Linked DNA regions of Homo sapiens: region 2 is linked to region 1. The links come from fine-mapping of genetic effects on gene expression. A gene starts in region 1. The other region holds a variant in brackets. All regions are shown on one strand. Distances are from middle to middle. Region 1 holds the start of CTSE (cathepsin E). Region 2 has its middle 7.1 kb from the start of RHEX.

What was found. PIP is the estimated chance that this variant, and not a neighbour inherited with it, causes the effect.
Region 2: its variant is fine-mapped to the expression of CTSE in whole blood (TOPMed, PIP above 0.99).

The regions. Positions count from the first base shown.
Region 1 is chr1:206,019,052-206,029,455 of GRCh38, forward strand. It overlaps CTSE (cathepsin E), which reads right to left and starts at 4,844. Exons shown (of 9, transcript NM_001910.4): 1 at 4,673-4,844; 2 at 3,850-4,006; 3 at 3,099-3,216; 4 at 1,998-2,116. The coding sequence starts at 4,740.
Region 2 is chr1:206,040,894-206,051,297 of GRCh38, forward strand. No RefSeq gene overlaps it. Among named protein-coding and RNA genes, the nearest start is that of RHEX, 7.1 kb to the right of the region's middle. RefSeq lists enhancers at 935-1,436, 6,690-6,859, 8,589-8,658, 9,813-10,312. The variant C/A (reference allele first, on the strand shown) is at 5,432.

The DNA of each region.
Region 1 (10,404 bases):
TTTAAGGGCTGCATCAGCTTCATCTACAAATTTTCACATGTCATATCTTTATTATGTCAGTCAGGGTTTGATAAGAGAAGCAGAACCATTAGGAGGTACTATAGATTATAGATATAGCTATAATGATGTGGATATAGATATTGATTATATGCAACTGTGGGTGCTAGTTAAACAGTGTACTTTAGGATACTGTTTCTGTCCTGATGCTGCAGCAGCAGTCTACAGTTTGCACAGCAGAAAGGGAAGATAGATGTCAAGTGGGAGAAAAAGGGCCAGTTGGAACCCATGAGGGTGAGGGTGGACTGGAACCCACATTGTTCTCTCACTGTCCCCAAGTCTCCAGCCTCAATGATGGGGATGTTATGCAGCAAAAGCTGATGATTTGTTAGAGGTAAGTGCACACCTGGTCCTGGAGCCAGAAAAACTGAGGGAAGGAGCAATGCAGCTGACATTGCTGTGGGCTTGGCTGCTGCCCTACACCAGCCAGGTGAGCCAACAGATACGTGACAAGCTATAGGCTTGAATTCCCCTTTCTATGCTAATTTCAGTCCCTTCCCTGCATCTCAGAGGTTACTGTGATGATCAGTTAGGGATGTAGCCTTCAAAATAGTCATTTTAACTTTTATATATATATTATATGTAATTAGATATATAATATATATGTATATGTCATAATATATATAGAATCTTATATATAACATAATATATACACATTACATATATATTGTGTTAATCTATTATATAATAGATTAACATATTATGTAATATATTATGTTAATCTATTATATAATAGGTTAATCTATTATATAATAGATTAACATAATATATTATGTAATATATTATTACATACAACATATTAATATATTATATAACACATACTATATTATTAATATAATACATTATATCAATTATATTCTATAATATATTATATATTATATAACATATATTAATGTAATGTATTACATATTATATTAATTATATAATATATAACATGTATTATATGATATAATTATGCAATTATTATATACTTTAATATGTTACATATTGTATCTATATAATATATACAGATGGATATATATTATATATACAAATATACTGTATATTACATATATTCATATATGGATATTATATATTATATATTATATATGTAATGTGTGTATACACACGCATACATAGTTCCAATAGAAAATACAGTACATTGTTTTATCTGTATGATATTTTTACATAGATGGTGTTTTTCTGCTTCTGGCATTCTTTCAGTTGATAATATGTCCTACTCCACCCACTCTAAGGGATGTTGATGAAGGCTGTGCCCTGCTGGCCTCGGGAATACCCCAGGGACCAACGTTCACCAGGAGTAGGTCAACCTCTCTTTCTCCCAAGGCCCAGGCATATATTGCTGTCTATAAGCCTGAAAAAGTACCTGGCTCTCTGTCCCCACATTTGTCTGATTCCCATAGTTCTAGGACCCATAGGACTTCAGAGGGAGTCAGAGGGTCAGAGGTCAGAGGGAGTTTGAGGAACAGCTCATGAGCTCAGCACTGAGTTCAGTTTGGACCTTGGCCTTTGGACAACTGGGCTTCTGCCTTGCCTCTGTGATTGGACTCCCATTTCAGACCTTGCCCCCTTATGTTACTGAGTCCAAATCTCTCCCCCTGGTGTGGACTTCTTTATCCTTCAAGACGGAGACGTGGTTTTATCTCCTCAATGCCCTAGAGACTGGAGATCCAGCTGTGCACCCTGCCACCAGGCTTTGTGCACTGGGCACTGCTTCCTGCCAGAGTCCCCCTGTGCTGCTCTCCCCCAGGGCCCAGCGTGCTGTGGAGACTGACCCACTGCCACCATCTCAGGTGGGGAGTGTTGCTTGCCCTTTCTCCTAGAAGTTAGTGCTAACCCCTGTTTCCACCCATTCCTGAGGCAGATTTGAAATGTAAGACCTCTGAATAAGTCTCCCAAGTTTCTGTCCAAGAGAGAAAAAATGAAGGACTTGCACTCACAGAGACTTGGTCGGCTCCAATGATCCCGGACAAGCTCCCGGTTCCATACTGAATGGAGAAAGATTGACCTGGCTGGCTGTATGTGCTGGACTGGGAAGGCTGGAACCTGCTGTGCGTCTCTGGAAAGAAGTGCACTGCTCTTGCTTATGCCATCGGCTCACTGGCTGCATCCCTGCCCTAATGCCACCCAGCCCCACAGCGGCAGGGTCTCTTCCCTCAGCTCTCAACACTGAGTGGGGGCCCCTAGAAGCCTGGTGATGCCCCTCCCTAATGAACAACTACATTTCCCTCTAGCTACAGATGTGGCCTAACTGGGGACCAAATAGCTATCCCTGAGCAAACCTGATTGTCCACAATGACCTCATGAGGCACACCAAGATAAGTGTCATTTATCAGGCGCCAGCCACAGTCCCTGCCACCCATTGTGGGTCAGAGGTTGGCTTCAAAAGAAACTCAGGGATAAACAATTGCCCCAGGAAATTACTCCCAACTTTTCTCCCAACCGATGGACATCTCTAGCCTTGGGGTTTCCAGAGACATTCTGTCTCTGGGACTTGTCCTGTATCGAACAAGACATCTTTCTGTAGCTCTTCTTTTCCAATCCTCACTGAAACTTCTGAGTTACCTCTGGACAAATGGACCCACCCATGCCATTGTGCCCCACCAGCCCCACCTGTGTGCACCAGGAGATAAGGCTACCAAGCCTCCTTGAAACAAGCAGACTATCTACACTAGAACCCGACTCACCTCCCTGCTCAGAAATAACCAATTAAATTAAACTTCCCCTACATTCCTTTGGGTGTTCCAAAGGAAGTGAGTCATTATGTCAAAGATTTCTCTTTTCAATGGCTTTCTTTCTATTAATTCTGATCAGTATGAAAGTTACTCTCTTGGACAGCAGCCACATTTTAGTTCTTCCTTGGCTTTGCTCTATCTCTGCTATAAGCAGTTCCACGGCTGACTCAAAGATGGAGAGTGGAAGCTGGTGTGGCAGGGATGGCCAGTTTCTGGAACCTAAGCCCCCCTTCCCCAGAGTACCAGGCTTGGCCTCCCAGGACTAGCCCCCAGACATTCTCTGCTGGTGCTCCTGGCCCCACTTACTGCAGGCTGGGCTAGTGCAGTACACAGAGGGGACCCAGAGGTTGGAGGAGCCAGTGTCGAAGATGACAGTGAAGTTCTGTGGTGGGGAGCCAATGGAGATAGTGCCGAAGTATTCCATCTGCAAGGAAGAGTGAGAAGGAAAGAGGGTGTGGGTGGTGGGGAGGGACAAGGGTGCTCACCAGGAAGCCAGGGGAAAGCTCCCAGGGGCCAGAGCCTGGGGTAATACAGACTGGAGTTTACAGAGCCTAGGAAGTGGCAACGCTGGAAAATAAAAGGTAAAAGGAGCAGAGAAATGGCCATGAAGGAGGAAATCAAACCAAGCCTCTGGCTACTTCATTTGATTTTACTTGCACTAACCTGATTCTTATAAATACATTGTAGGAGAGGCAGTGGAGGAAGAACCATCTGTTTTACAGACCAGGGAACTGGGGCTGGGAGAGGTTAAGTAACTTGCCTAAGGGTACACAGCCAGTAAGCTGCCCAGCTGAGAGCAGAAGCAGGGGCCTTCAGTGTGGGATGATGCTTTCACTCCCAGCCCTTTCCTTCTGCAGAGAACTCTGACATTTGGGTACATGGGGGCCTGCTTAGCCAACTCCATGGGGACCCAGGGAATCAGTCCCCATGGATCATCATCCAAGTGAAGAAATCCACAATGGCCTTCGGTGCTACTGATGTGGCACTGGCCATGCCCTAATGCTGGGCCTTCCTCCCGCTCCCACCTCTCCCCAGCCCTGACCCCAGGAGGCCTCACATCCAAGTAGTTGATGAGGGGTTCCTTGGCACTCTGGTCCATTGAGCAGGACTCGGTGAACTGGATCATGTCCAAATTATGGGATTTCCAGAACTCAGAGAGCTGGCTCCGTGCCCGCAGCTTCTTCTTGAGGGACGGATGCCTCCTGAGGGGCACCCTGGAGACAAACCCCCATGTAAGCAGGAGATGTACTTCTGCCTCCCTCTTCCCCCCATTCTCGTCCCATTTTCTCAGGGGCCAACTAGAGAAGATGGGGTGGGAGGGGGGGATCTGCAAGACAGCACGCAGGATACAGGTGGGATCAGCGTCCTCTCTGCCACTCAGCCTGCCCGGCCTCATCTCTGCCCTATAGAGTCTTAGAATCTTAGAGTGGAAATGGCTCCCCTCCTGGAGCTGAGGTCTTTGAGATCTAGGAAAATGGGAGATGTGGGGCGGTCTACAGTTTTACATGAACATCACGAAGGGCTGATTTAAAGGGACAGAAAAACTCTTGGGGACAGTGATGGTCAGTCCCCTGGGGAAGTCCTGGGGCGCTTTGAGCTACAAACCACAACTGCAGGTTCCTGCTCTTTTGCAACACAAGAAGACCCCTGGGACTTGGGAAGGCACCTCCGTGGAGGTGGAGGCAGGAGGATGACTTGTTGAGGACTGGAGATTAAGGCCATACACAGGCGGTCACTGGATGAGTCTCTTCCATGCATTGACGCAAGCCCTCAGCTTCTCCTCCTCTTCACCTCCCCATCAGCTTTCCTACCCCAGAGCAGCCCTGAGTTGCAGGGCATGGGACTACCCAGCTGAACACAGTGCGGGGACGTCTTCTCACCTGTGAAGGGATCCTTGGGCCTCTCCCAGCTCCAGGAGCACCAGCAGCAAAAGAAGGAGCGTTTTCATTGTGAGTCCGACCAGCAGCTTCTCCCTTGCCCCCTCCTTTCTTCTCTCCCCGAGGGCAGTGGGAACGGACTTTCCCTAACTCTCAGACCTGCCCAGCCCAGTCTGAGGGCCGAATGATAAGGCCCTGGAGTCATTAGCCATGCCCAGAGTAAATACGGCATGTGGAACAGGGCGTTCCCCCTGCACCTCTCCGTCCCTTTCCCACCTACAAGAGGAATATGAGTCTGCGGGGAGAACTTGGGAGTCCTCTGGGGCTTGGCTTCTCTCAGGGCTTTGGCACCTCCTCTGACCCCAAGAAACCCTGTTAATGAATCCGGAGGGCAGCACATGCCTGGCTGCCTGGAAAGGCCCACTGAACTCTTACTGCAAGTGCTCTAGCTGGAGACTCTGGAGGGGTGGGAGCTGACTTGTCATGGGTGGCAGGATTCTAACTCAAAATATTCGTCAGTCTGTTTTCTGGGTGATTCCTGTTCTCTCCTCAATCTCTCAAATGCTCCAAAGGCAGTTTATCCTTCCCTGGCCCACTTTGAAGCACAAACCAGCACTCCTCAAAGGCCCTGAAATGGGAAAATGTAGCTGCAGATTTATGGAGCCCACTCTCCTGACTCTAAGGACTTGATGAATCTGGGGCTGGGGCTCAGGGGTGTGTGGAGGAGAATGCAGGGGCAGCGAGGGAGGGTCAAGGGGGTCAGCGTCTACAGCAAGTGCCCGCATGAGTCTACTAAAGCGGCCATGACAAAGTACAGGGGGCTTAAACAACAGAAATTTATTTTCTCACTATTCTGGAGGCTGGAAGTCCAAGATCAAGGTGTTGGCAGACTTGGTTGCTTCGGAGGCCTCTCTCCTTGGCTTGCAGATGGCTGCCTTCTCTCTGTGTCTTCACATGGGTCTTCCCTCAGCGTGTGGCTGTGTCCACATCCACATTTCCTCTTCTTATAAGGACGCTAGTCATATTGGAGTAGGGCCCACCCTAATGACTGCGTTTACCCTTAATACCTCTTTAAAGACCCTATCTCCAAATACAGTCACGTTCTGAGGTACTAGGTGTTAGGACATCAACATGGATTTTGGAGGACAAAGTTCAGCCCTTAACAGTGCTCAGGGACAATAGGATCTTCTATCTGTCAAGTGGGACTAAGCGCAGGGGTGGAGAGTGGGTGGGGCTCAGGCCTTAGTTACCGCAGTGTGTGAAACCCCCTCACCATCAGCCTATCTCTGTGGCCACCCGCCTCATAAACAGATGGTGGGGCTTCAGTGCCTGGGGTGGGGATGAAGGGGTTACAGGTAGGAAGACCCTGACCCTGACTCAAGTTAGCCAGGGCAGCAGAGGCCACCACCATATGCCAATGCTTCCAGAGGGCACTAGCTCAGCAGTAGGAAGTAGATGGCCTGCGTTTAGGTTTAGCTCTGCCCTGACCAGCTAGTGTTCTGGAAAATCTCTTAAGTGCTATGGGATCTGCCTTTCATCTCTGAAGTTCAAATGGCAAGCAAACGTGGAGTATGGAGCTAAGCCAAACCCACCCTTGGGTCCAAAAATGTTAAAAAAAGACATCAAAAAGACTTAAGGAACAGCCTAGACCTTTGACCCCTGAACCCAAGGCAACAAAGCCTCTTTGGCATTTCCCAGGAGCCCGTCTTGTTGATCTTTCACTGGGGAGAGTGGTCTAAACCTAGAAGGGCAGCTTGAGTCAGAAGTGGCTAGAAGTGGAGATCATTCATTTTGGCAGTAAACTCTGCCATGTTTTGCCCGTAACTGCTTATTCACCACATACCTTAGTTTTGTCATCTGCCAAATACCTTACCTACATCAATGGGTTTTTAAGGAGGATTAAACAAACAAAATAAGGTACAGATATACTTGTTGTACTGCACTCTGCTTTACTGCACTTTGCAGATACTGCTTTTTTTTTTTAATTGAAGGTTTGTGGCAAACCTGTGTCAAGCAAGTCTATCAGCACCATTTTTCCAATACTGTGTGTTCATTTTGTGTCTCTGTGCCACATTTTGGTAATTCTTGCAATATTTCAAAGTTTTTCATGATTATTTTATCTGTTTTGGTGATCTGTACTCAGTGATCTTTGATGTTACTGTTGTAATTGTTTTGGGGTACCACAAACTGCACCCGTGTAAGACAGAGAATTTAATAAGTGTAATTGTGTGTTCTGATTGCTCCATTGCTCTACTAACTGGTCATTCCCCCATCTCTCTCTCTCCCTCTCTTTCTCTCCCCCTCGGGCCTTCCTGTTGCCTGAGACACAACAATATTGAAATTAGGCCAATTAATAATTCTACAGTGACCTCTAAGTGTTTAAGTGAGAGGAAGATTTGCATGTTCCTCATTTTAAATTCAAAGCTAGAAATTATTAAGCCTAGTGAGGAAGCCATGTTGAAAGCCAAGAAGGGCTGAAAGCTAGACCTCTTACACCAAACAGTTACCCAAGTCATGAATGCAAAGAAAAAGTTCTTAAGGGAAATTGAAGGTGATATTACAGGGAACACACAAATGATAAGAAAGCAAAATAGTTTTCTTGCTGATATGGAGAAAGTGTTATTGGTCTGGATAGAAGATCAAAGCAGTGACAACACTCCCTTAAGTCAAAGCCAAATCCAGAGCAAGGCCCTAACACTCTTCAGTTCTATGAAGGCAGAGAGAGGTGAGGAAGCTGCAGAAGAAAACGTGAAGCCTATGGAGATTTCTGCAAGGTGAAGCAGAAAGTCCCAAAGCAGAAGCTGCAGCAAGTTATCCAGAAGATCTAGCTAAGATCATTGATGAAGGTGGCTACAATGAACAACAGATTTTTAGTATAGACAAAATAGCCTCATACTGGAAGAAGATACCATCTAGGACTTTCATACTAGAGAGAAGTCAATGCCTGGATTCAAATCTTCAAAGAACAGGCTGAATCTTTTGTTAGGGGATAATGCAGCTGGTGACTTTAAGTTGAAGCCAATGCTCATTTGCCCATTCTGAAAATCCTAGGGCCCTAAAAAACTATGCTAAATAGAGTTTGTTTGTGCTGTATCAGTGGAACAACATAGCCCTGGATGACAGTACATTGGTTTACAGCATGGTTTACTGGATATTTTAAGCTTGCTGTTGAGACCTACTGCTCAGAAAAAAAAAAATTCTTTTCAAAATTTTACTGCTCATTGACAATGCAACTCATTGCCAAAGAGCTCTGATGGAGATTTATAAGGAGATAAATGTTTTTATGCCTGCTAACCCAATATTCATTCTGCAGCCCCTGGATCAAGGAATAATTTTGACTTTCAAGTCTCATTATTTAAGAAATGCATTTTGTAAAGCTATAGCCACCATAGATAGTGATTCTGATGGATCTGGGCAAAGTAAATGGAAATCTTCCGGAAAGGATTTACCATTCTAGATGCCATTATGATTATTCATGATTCATGGGAGATCAAACTATAAAATTAAAAGGAGTTTGGAAGAAGTTGATTCCAATCCTCATGGATAACTTTAAGGGGTTCAAGACTTCAGTGGAGAAAGTAACTGTAGATGTGGTGGGAATAGCAAGAGAACTAGAAGTGGAGCCTGAAGGTGTGACTGAATTGCTGCAACCTCATGATCAAACTTGGATGGATGAGAAGTTGCTTCTTATGGATGAGTAAAGGATGTGGTTTCTTGAGATGGAATGTATTCCTGGTGAAGATGCTGTGAACACTGTTGAAATGCCAACAAAAGATTATGAATATTGCATTAACTTGGTTGATAGCAGTAGTAGGGTTTGAGAAGATTACTCCAGTTTTGAAAGAAGTTCTACTGTGAGTAAAATGCTATCAAACAGCATCATATGCTACAGGGAAATCTTCAAGAAAGGAAGAGTCAATCTATGTGGCAAACTTCATTGTTTTCTTAGTTTAAGAACTGGGCGCTGTGGCTCGTGCCTGTAATCCCAGTATTTTGGGAGGCCGAGGCGGGCAGATCACCTGAGGTCGGGAGTTTGAGACCAGCCTGACCAACATGGAGAAACCCCATCTCTACTAAAAATACAAAACACCTGGGTGTGGTGGTGCATGCCTGTAATGCCAGCTACTCAGGAGGCTGAGGCAGGAGTATTAATTGAACCTGGGAGGCGGAGGTTGCAGAGAGCCGAGATCCTGCCACTGCACTCCAGCCTGGGCAACAAGAGTGAAACTCCATCTCAAAAAAAAGAAAGAAAGAAAGAAAGAAATTGTCATGGCCACCCCAAACCTGGAGCAACTACCACCTTGATCAGTCAGCAGCCATTAATGTCCAGGCAAGACCTCCGCCAGCAAAAAGGTTATGACTCCCTGAAGGCTCAGATGATTGTTAACATTTTTAGCAATAAAGCATGTTTTAATTAAGATGTTTTTAGACATAATGCTATTGCACACTTAATAGACTACAGTACAGGGTAAACACAACTTTTGCATGCATTTTGAAACCAAAAAACTTGTGTGATTGACTTTATTGCAATTTTCACTTTATTGCAGTAGTCTGGAACCAAACCCACAGTAGCTCCAAATGATGCTTGCATGTGGAAGTTCTTGAAAAACTGTAACATGTCATGTGAACTAAAGATTGTCACTAAAAACTTCAGTGTTTCAGAAGTGCTGGAAGGGTTCTTACAGACTCTCAAGACAAACCCACTTGTATAGCAGAATGAGAAAACTGAGGCAGAGAGGCAAAGTGATCAGCCCAAGAGCACATGGTTCATTTAGTGGCTGATCTAGGATTAGGACTCAGCCCTCCTGACTTCTAAGCGGGCAAACTTTCTGCTACAGAATTATAGCATCATTATCACTGAACTGTTGAAAGGGGGCTAACCATAACCCCTCCCTCCTTTTCCATCTTTTAGACCTCTCCCTGCATCCCTCTTGCCCCTGTTTACTAAATGTAGAGAGTTTGCCTGGCCCAGGCTTGAGAAAAAGCTGACTGGTCCTTGCAGCTGTGGGCCACCTGACTACTGAGTGGAGCAGACACAGCCTCGACTGCCTGCAAGGAGCCCCTGGGTCTAGCTGGATTTTGGAAAATTTGACAAAGGTTAAGAGCAGGAACACTGGGGATGTTTGTCAGAGCTAATGGGATCTGTCCTCTCCAGAGACACCAGGAACTGAACCTACCCTGGCTGTAGATTACTGGCCTTTTCCAGCAAGAACCAAATATTGCTGTGGACAATTTGAACACTTTCCAAAGAACAAAAGACCTTAGGCATATGTGTGGTTGTCTGTGTGTGTCCTTTGAGCAGAGGGAGAGAGAAGAGCATTTGAGGTGAAATAGTATGATGTGGGGGAAAGTGACACATAGTATAGTCAATGATCCGGTCTCTCTGCATTAGGAGAGGGTCTTTGGAGAGAGAGAGAGAGGGGTGGGGGGAGAGAAAGAGACGCTCAAGAACGTGGATTGGAGGCTGGCTGGATGTAGAGACTTTGTTCCCAGAACATTTGAAAGCTGGTGGTGGTGTCACTATCTAGTGAACTTCTTTCTGGAGCTTCAGCTTCCAGAAAGTAAATTAATAATAAGAGGACATTTGGGAGGCTGAGGTGGGCTGATCACTTGAGGTCAGGAGTTCAAGACCAGCCTGGCCAACATAGTGAAACCTTGTCTCTACTAAAAATACAAATATTAGCCAGGCATGGTGGCACGTGCCTGTAATCCCAGCTACTCAGGAGGCTGAAGCG
Region 2 (10,404 bases), 22 kb after region 1:
ATTGCTGCTGGTGTAAATGACACAGTAGTTCCCTACTTTACCCCCTGGATCTTTGCACACATTTTCTTAATTATGTCATTGGGATTAATTCCTCTAAGTGGAGTTGCTGAGTCTAAGGAGTATGGACATTTTCATTGCTTTTTTTTTTTTTTTTTGAAACGGAGTTTTGCTCTGTTGTTGCCCAGGCTGGAGTATAATGGCGCGATCTGGGCTCACTTCAACCTTCACCTCCCGGGTTCAAGCAATTCTCCTGCCTCAGCCTCCTGAGTAGCTGGGATTACAGGTGTGCACCACCACACTCAGCTAATTTTTGAATTTGTAGTAGAGACGGGGTTTCACCATGTTGGCCAGGCTGGTCTCAAACTCCTGACCTCATGATCTGCCTGCCTCAGCCTCCCAAAGTGCTGGGATTACAGGCGTGAGCCACTGTGCCTGGCCTTCATTGCTTTTTGATACCCACCACCAAATTGCCCTTCAGAGAGATGGTAACAATTTGCCTTCTTGCTAGAAAGTGTCTGTCTGCAGAACACTTCACTGGGCTGAGCATTTTAATTATTTTTTAAAAATAGTTTCAAATTGTTTTAACTTAATTTATTTGGTTTTTAGAGTTGGAACTTCTTTAAAGACATAGATAAATTTGGCCATCTTCATGTGTCTTTCTCCCAATAACAGCATTACAGAGCATCAGTTAGGTGCAGAGACTGGGCAGTGCACCCGTGTGCAAAGACAGGAGACACGAATCTTCCCTGAAGGAGTGACAGTCTAGGGAGGAAGGCAGACTGCAGGTGAGGTAACAGGTAACAGCTCTGTGTGAGGAATGCTATGATTGCAGGCACTGTGTGGGAGCCTCTTGCAGCCCTCCCGTGAGGGAGGGGGAGGCAGGGTTGGGGCGGAGTGTGCACAGGCAAGAACAAGCCTGGGGCACCGAGAAACTGCCAGAAGCCCAGGCTGGCTGCAGCATAAAGTGTAAGAGAGCACGGCTGGGAGGTGGGCAGGACTCAGATCATGGCAGGCCTTTCATGCCTGAGTAGGCAACCACTGTCAGGCAGGTTCACACACAGTAATCACATGCACGAGGTAACATGCGTGGAAGAGAACAGATGCTTTGCTAGCTGTCCTCTTGCCGCAGTCACTTTTTAACTAATCACTAAAAGGTGCTGGGTTACTATTGACCCCTACAGCACCTGTGTGGGATAAGGAAGGGGTACCCCAATGAAACAAACACAAGTTGGTTCTATATGAATTATATATATAAAATTATTAAATCCAAGATAATAGAAAATTAGTGTTTTTAGTCACAATACTCAGGATTTGAAAGTCTCTGGGATGTAACAATTCATCATAAGATAGTTTTAGTCATAAAATAATTTTCATGGGGACAACATTTTCTATGTCAATTTTAATGCCTGCTTGTTCCAGTTTTTTTTTTTTTTTTTTTTGAAATGGAGTCTCACTCTGTCACCCAGGCTGGAGTGCAGTGGCGCAATCTCGGCTCACTGCAACCTCCGTCTCTCGGGTTCAAGTGATTCTCCTGCTTCAGCCTCCTGAGTAGCTGGGATTACAGGTGTGCACCACCATGCCCCACTAATTTTTGTATTTTTAGTAGAGATGGTGTTTTACCATGTTGGCCAGGCTGGTCTCGAACTCCTGACCTCAGGTGATCTGCGCCCCCTCGGCTTCCCAAAGTGCTGGGATTATAGGCATGAGCCACTGCACCCGGCTCAGTATCTTATTTTCTATAAAAATGGTCACTAGAATTGATAGTCTTTCTTGTGACATTCTTGATAAGTAGCTTTTTATAATTGTTTTAAAAGTATCTACATTTTCCACTGCTGGCTGATACTACCAAAGTTAATGTATCCTAAGAGCTAGGATGGTTTTAGGAAAATGTGTCTGGTATATTATTACTGAAAATAAATTGAGGCATTTCATGGGAGGCAATTAGATTTTATTAATCTACTTATTTATTTATTTTTTGAGACAGGGTCTTGCTCTGTCACCCAGGCTTGAGTGCAATGGCACGATCATGGCTCACTGCAGCCTCAACCTCCTGGGCTCAAGCAATCCTCTGCTCTCCGCCTCCCAAGTAGCTGGGACTACAGGCATGTACCAACATGCTGGCTAAATTTTGTATAGATACAGTGTTTCACCATGTTACCTAGGCTGGTTTTGAACTTCTGAGCTCAAGCGATCCTCCTGCCTCCCAAAGTGTTGGGATTACAGGTGTGAGCCCAGCCATATCAACTAGATTTTAGAAAGCGACTTCAGGATTTTAGTTCCTCTTACACTAATGCTTCATCAGTATCACTCTTCCTCCTATGTTTCTCAATTTCAATTGTATATTTTTAATGGTTGCAGAAGCTCATATTTGTCATAATTTTTCAATTTATGCATGTCATCTAGAATACTGAAAAGACCTTGAGATATTCTTTATTATAAGCCTCTCTTTTAAAGAGATATTATTGCTTCCAATATAGAAAAAAACTAATTTTGCTATTGACCTTCAGATTGTAGAGGATTACAGGTGTGAGCCACCTCACCCAGACAGGAATTTTTAATATTTTATTCACTATTGGCTTTAAAGAATAGGCAACCTGGCCGGCCGTGGTGGCTCACGCCTGTAATCCTGGCACTTTGGGAGGCTGACGTGGGTGGATTACCTGAGGTCAGGGGTTCGAGACCAGCCTGCCCAACATGGTGAACCGCCATTCTCTACTAAAAATACAGAAGATTAGCCAGGTGCAGTGGCGTGTGCCTGTAATCCCAGCTACTTGGGAGGCTGAGGCAAGAGAATCACTTGAACCTGGGAGGCGGAGATTGCGGTGAGCCGAGATCAGGCCACTGCACTCCAGCCTGGGCGACAGAGCAAGGCAGCCTTAGAATCTTTTGGGGACCTATGCTGAAATCCATTAAGTTTGTCATAAATTTTTTTCATCTTTGTTGTATCTGCTCCCTCAAATCATTATAGCCTATATTCAGTGCTTCTGTTGGTGATGGTTGTGGTCAACCAAAAACCTAAATAATCCTTCTCCAGCTGTATCATTTACTGTAGGGAAAAAAATTAATGTTTACATATAGATATATTTGCATTTTGAAAATGTACAAATCTAAAAATAATTGTCAACTGTTCCACGTGGCTTACATCAGGAAATGTACCTCAAGTTATTTAACTGTGTGATATTTAGCACTTCTTACAAGATTCAAAATAACTTCAGTCAACAAATCTGCTATATTTTAATCATTTGGTTTTGCTTTTCATCTGCTACATAATGTGTAAATGCTATTTGGTGTTTATATATAGTATATAATATTTATATATAGTATATAATATTTGGTATATATTTGGTGTTTATATATAGTATATAATATTTGTACAATAATATACAAGTATATGTTTATATAAACAAATATATATTGTATATATACAAATTATTGCATATTTGAAACATACAATATATATTTGTATACTGCTGTAAATTCTATTAAGCTTCTATGCTTTTCGTAAATGAAGAAAATTCCTGTTATTATACTGCTTATACATTTTTGTAGATGATCCTCTGAATGCTAGATATTGTCTTGCCAAAACAGAATTGAGTTTTTTTGTTCAATGTAATATTTTCCTCATCATATAGAATCTGTTTTGCAGCATTAATAATTATATATTTCTAATCAGATTTGAAATTTGAATACTTAGCATTCCTATTGATGTTTATTTCAGATTCTTCATGTTTACAAAAAAATGTGCCAAGTGCTGTACAATCTTTGCATTCTTTCCCATTTTCCAGCTGATTTTTTGTTCTCAAAGAGCTGGCAAAATACAGAGTCCTTGGAAGTATAATAAAATAATCAGAATCTAGTCATTATTATTTCTCCTCACCATTTGGAAAAAATTTGTGTCCATTATATTTCCAAAAACTTCCAACCTGTATTATCTTTTGTAAAGATAAAAAATTTTTTACTTGAGGTGAATAATTTTCAGCAAGAGTACATCTTTGTTTCCTATTCAAACTACTTGGCCATGTGTTTGAATTCTTTGCATTTTTAAAGCTACTTTTTTTTAGATTCATCGATTATTTCTGACAATGGAACTAAAAGGTAAATTCACATCTCACATTTCTGTGACACATTCACTGAAACAAACAGCCCTAAACTCTCTATTTCTCCCTAAATTTATTCAATAATCCAAATAGTTTTACTTTACTTTCTATCTAGACAGCTTTTCATCTTCTAGTTTTAGTTTGATTTTTTTTTCTTATCAGTATCCTGGGAGAAATAATATTATATTAGCTTATTAAATGTTAAAGAAATATTATTAAGGCCGGGCATGATGACTCATGCCTGTAATCCCAGCACTTTGGGAGGCTGAGGCGGGTGGATCACGAGGCCAGGAGTTCAAGACCAGCCTGACCAACATGGTGAAACCCCATCTCTACTAAAAATACAAAAATTAGCCAGGCGTGGTGGCACATGCTTGTAATCCCAGCTACTCAGGAGGCTGAGGCAGGAGAATAGCTGGAACCCGGGAGGCGGAGGCTGCAGTGAGCTGAGACCATGCCACTGTACTCCAGCCTGGGCATCAGAGCGACACTCTGTCTCAAAAAAAAATATATATATATATATATGTGTATATATCTATATACATAATTAAAACATAATAGTAGTTTATCCTAGAACTTAAAACTTTAAAAAATATATATAATAAGCCATGAAACTTTACCAGCAGTTAGCTTTTCTCCTGAAGAAATTTTCTTTAACAACCCATAAACAATAGCTATGATACAATTCACAATTCATGATATAATAGTCTCTAATTTATGAATATAAAATAATTATTTTATGAATATATAATTGCCTATGATCATTAATTACCACAAAAGTGAGTTATGTAATAATAAAAATCCGTAGATCTAAATTAGGAATTCAGAGCTACCATTCAGGCAGACAATATGAACTGTAATGCAAAACTTCAAATTTAGCCAATACACAAATACTAATACAGGATTTAAAAAAAAATTAGATAAAAATCAAAACAAGAGTTGGAAAACAACTCCTTGTTTGGAAGCACTAGTTATTGTGGCACTCGTTACTTAAACCAATAAGGTCTTTGTCAAACACTCTCTGCTTCAGCTTATGAAGTAAATGTCAACCCTGTTAGAAAATCTATTTCCATCTGAAAGAAAATTGTCATAAAAAAGGATCTTTGTTAGAGAAGACATTTTATTGTTATTTGTCAGAAAACTATTTTAATAAGAATATGTCATCTACCTTTAGAGTTAGCAGTTAAATAAAAAAGTGAAAAAAATTCAACATAATGATGTCTGTGATGTGCATAGTTTCTGTCTTTCTTTTTTTTTTTTTTTGAGACGGAGTTTCACTCTTGTTGCCCAGGCTGGGGTCCAATGGTGCGATCTTGGCTCGCTGCAACCTTCAC[C/A]TCCCGGGTTCAAGCGATTCTCCTGCCTCAGCCTCCTGAGTAGCTGGGATTACAGGCATGCCCCACCACGCCTGGCTAATTTTTTATATTTTTAGTAGAGACAGGGTTTCTCCATGTTGGTCAGGCTAGTCTTGAATTCCCAACCTCAGATTATCTGCCCACCTTGGCCTCCCAAAGTGCTGGGATTACAGGTTGGATAGTTTCTTTAGATGTCATGCCCTTGAGCAATAAACAACCTGAACAACTGTCCTTAGCTACTCCAAAATTTATGTGGTTATTACAGCTAATAAAGATGATATAGAAACAATCTGTGTAGTAAATGAAAGGTAGTTTAAGGGATTTTGAGACCTCTGTTTGGATGCTGGTTTTGTTGTTTGCTAACTGTGACCTGGAGCAATTCACTTATCACTCAGTTACCTCAGCTACAAATGGGGATAAGTATGCCTCATCCTTTAAACTGCTGACCGGAGGTCACACGAGATATCCCCAGTTCTGAGTCGTCAACGAAATCGTAAGATGTGCATAAGGTTTCCATTTTGCACTTGTTAAAAATGTGCTTGCGGCCAGGTGCGGTGGCTCATGCTTGTAATCCCAGCACTTTGAGAGGCCGAGGCCGGTGGATCACTTGAGGTCAGGAATTTGAGACCAGCCTGGCCAACATGGTAAAACCCCGTCTCTACTAAAAATACAAAAATTAGCTGGACATTGTGGTGGGTGCCTGTAATCCCAGCTACTCGAGAGGCTGAGGCAGGAGAATCACTTGAACCCGAGAGGCAGAAGTTGCAGTGAGCCGAGATCACGCCACTGCACTCCAGCCTGGGCGACAGAGTGAGACTCTTGTCTAAATAAACAAATAAGTAAGTAAAATGTGCTTGCTTAAAAAAAATTTTTATTATGTTTTTAAATTGAATGAAGGATATGTGCAGAGCCAGTAAAGGATGGTAATATGGGATCAGTTCCTGTTAAGTCACCTGTGGACAGTTCTGGCTTCACATGTTCACTGGTGCTCTTTTGTAGGAGCCCAAGAGGCTGACAGTTTAATTTTCTTAGGATGCCAAATGTTAAGACACCTGTTTGACGTTTGCAAATAAGCTGCTGTGCAAAATGAAAACCTGATGGTGATCTTTAAAGCAACCCCAACCAATAAATACCTCTGTAATAAACCTCAAGAGGACGCAGGGTTTCTATTTGGAGAAATGAAATTCTGCAAAAGCAACCAGAAAAACATTTAAAGTCCTAGAAATGGTGAGAGTATATGGCTCCACTCGGTTACGGCAGCACATCTGTGGCCAGCCTGAAAAAGAGCAAAGGGAGTGTGTCCAACTTCTCATTCATTCAATGAGCATTTATTGAGGGCTGCTGTGTTCCAGGCACTGGCCTAGAAGCCGGGGAGATAAGTGAAATCAGACATGATCTCAGTCCACTGGGCTCTTGAAGTTCATGAACTGTCTTTCGTGCCCTCTGTCTTCCCAGGTTCTGTTCCTCCCTCCTTCTGCATCCTAGGTGACAGCCTTCCTTTCACCCTCAGGTGTACAATGCTCCCTCTCTTAGCAGTGATTTCAGATGTTCATCGAAGGAAAAATGGCTGGATATTCCAACTGCCATGCCTTCACTACAAGCACCCTCCCATCTGGTATATCCACAGCCTCAGCACTGCCATAGGAATCCTTCCTACACATCCGTGACCACAACAAATGCCACCTCCTCCATGTAGTCTTCCCTCGTCACTAAAGTTAGAAACAACCTGCTCCTCCTTTCTGATCCAATAGCCCTTTCTTTGTACATCTTTTTAGCTTTGATTATACACCTACCTTTTGTTACAGCTGCTATGGTTGCCGCGGATATTTTCCTCGCTAAATTGGGGTGGGGGGTGAGCGTGGGGTAGCACTCTCTGAACCCAGGGCCCGTGTCTCATTCTTCTCTATCCTTGTAAGCTGTCTCACGCTGCTAAGGACATACCATATGCTACAGAGAAGTTTGACTGGATTGGATTTTTTTTTCTTTGATTTTAGCTACCCAGAATCAGATTGATCAATCCCCCTAGTGGCATTCTTACATCATGGGTCCACGAACTGCTCTTATGTTCTATTTATTTCATATTTTTGAGTCTTTGTTCTCCATTTCCCGTCCGCTCCACCCATCCCACCCCACTCCTGTTATAGACACACTCTCTTGTTTTATTAAAGTGTGACCTTCGAATCTATCTTCCATAATGTTATTTGCACACTTGTGTAAGCTTGAGTGATACTTGAGATTGTTGGGATTGAATTTGCCTTTGGCTGAGGGAATGAAACACCTCCACTGGAATTTCAGGCACCAGCACCTGCAAGGAAGTTTTTTGAGGCAGTGGCTCTTGGAATCACAGCAGGAGGTAGTCAGCAGCTTAGTCCAGGGGCGGCGGACTTATCCAGCTTCCTCTTCCGCTTCTTCTGCAGGCTCCCCCAACCTCAGAGCCTCCTTGTTGCCTCATGCCTGGACTTTGCCCCTCTGGTAGAGCCTTTCTACACAGCCGCTGCACTGCCAGCCAGCAGGCTCCGGGGGGAATTCTTGTGTCCAAGCAATTGCTGTCCTCTTGACACATCGCTATTTGAGAACACCCAATCTGTTCCTCCTGAATCTTTTGGCTTGCACCCCTGGATGTAGCATAGCACACTCTTGGCAGATAAGGCAAAATGCTCCTCTCTTGCCCTATGGTGAAGAAATGCCATGGGTCCTTAGATCAGCAATTCTCAAACTCTTTGGCCTCCAGACCCCTGTACACTCTCAAAAAGTACTAAGGAACCCAAAACGCTATTGTTTATGTAGTTTATATCTATTCATATTGACCATATCAGAAATTAAAACTAAGAAAATTTAAAAATATTTATCTAATCCCCTTAGAAAATAGTACCAAAGCCATTACATCTTAAACATAACACTTTTTATGAAATATAACTATTTCCCAAAGCATGAAGAATTTAATGAAAAGAGAAGCACTGTTTTATGCATGTGCAAATCTCATTATTCATACCTAGCTCAATAAAAGACAGCTGAGTTCTCAGGTCTGCCTTTGCACTCAGTCTCATGCCATACCACATGTCACATAGACTTTGGGAAACTCCACTGTATGCTTGAGAGAAACTGAGAGTGAAAAAGGCAACTAGTATCTTAGTATTATTAAGAGAGTGGTTTTGACCTCATGAACCCTCTGAAAAGATCTCTGGAACCCCCAGGGGGTCCCTGGACTACACTTTGAGAACTGCTCCCTAGATCATTGGTTTCTTGATGACAAGGCCTTTTTCTATTCATCCTTACAGACTGGGTTATTTATTTATTTATATTTATTTATTTATTTATTTAAACTGAAAGACCAGTGTAATAGGACAGACTGGGCTTTAAACAGACTATGTAGTTGGCACTCAGTAAACTTTGCCTGAATTGTTTGGAAATGTCTGTGTCATGAGGGTTTATCGCTCCATCATCAGCATCCAGGGACATGCTATACTCACTCTAGTGATGCTGTTATTGCTGAAGGCGTTTGGATTCTCCTTGGAGGTCGGCCTTTAGAGAAATTGGTAGTTCTGTTGAATATCCTCAGTGATGTCATATCTTTGTTCTCTGAGGAGTGCTTTGATTTTTGGAAACAGCCAGAGTGAAATCTGGATTATAATATGAGTAGTCAAATTGGGTAACACTGTATTTTGGATTTGTAAAAAGGAATACTGACTTCCTAAAACTGGGATGGCAGATCTACTTTAATGGCCATTTCTCTAATTTTACACACATATTTACACCTGTGCAAATGATGTTTGTTGCAGTTTAATAATTACATCATCATTTCAAGTGTAAAAAGTGGAAACAATCTAAATTTACTACTAGATGACCAGTTAAATAAACTGTGAGCAACCATAGAACGGAACACTCTGAAGAGGAAGAAAGGAATGAGAAAGTTCTGTATGTATTAATAATAAATTAACTCCTAGATATATTAAGTGAAAAAGCAAAAGGCAAAACAAAGTATGTAGTACACTGTCATGTGTAAGGAAGACGCCTGTATGGTGAGTGTGTTTCTGTGTGTCTGTGTGTTTGCTCATGTACACATAACGTACACAATAAACTGGGCATGCTGGTTTCCTCCAGGGAGGAGAACTAGATGGCTGGGGTCAAGAGCAGATGAGCAGCTTTTCCAGGACTATCCTTTTGTACCTTTTGAATTCTAAAACCATCTGAATGTGACCTAATGAAACAAACACTTCAAAAGTCCCAAACTGAAAAGGTGATGATGTCCTCCCCTTACAAAATTAAAAATAAAAACAATTTTAACACTTAGAAAACCTATTCTCTAAAAGAATTCTCTGTATTTCCTGGCCAATAACACAATTGTTAGAAGAAATGTACAATGTACCAGGTGACATGTGGAAGGGGACAACAGAAGGGGGCAATGACAGGCACTTGTGAAAACATTTGCCTTTTTCTTGATCACGTCTTGTTCCTCTTCTCATCCTTGCTTCATTTCACAAATAGGGGAACTGAGTCCAAGTAAGTGAAGTGACTCATCCGTGCCACCTGGGCTCTTGGTTCCAATGCTTGCCTTGTTAGGGGATTTCCTGACTGCTCCTGCAGCTCTCTTTGCTAGAATGTGGTAAGAGTTGGGGGAGGAGAGGGTGGCAGATCCTCTTTCATTTGGCCTTAAGCACACCTCCCTCTTCGCCTCTCACCCTGAGCAGGGCTGGCGCCTGAGGCCGGTGAACACCTGTGGTGGTGGCTGTGGGACAGCATCTTCCCCTGCTCTTTCTCTTCCTTCTTCCCCTTGGCCACCCACACCCAGGCAGGTGTCCTCCCCAACCCCAGGACACTGCTCTTGGTGTTTCACAGGCACGTGTCCTCTTTTTCTGAAATTGACATTACCCAGTTCAACATCACCTACTTTACCGGAGTACTTTGGGCTCTTTCAAATCAATTTCCGCTTCGAAGGCTAAAGATTTGTCATCAGC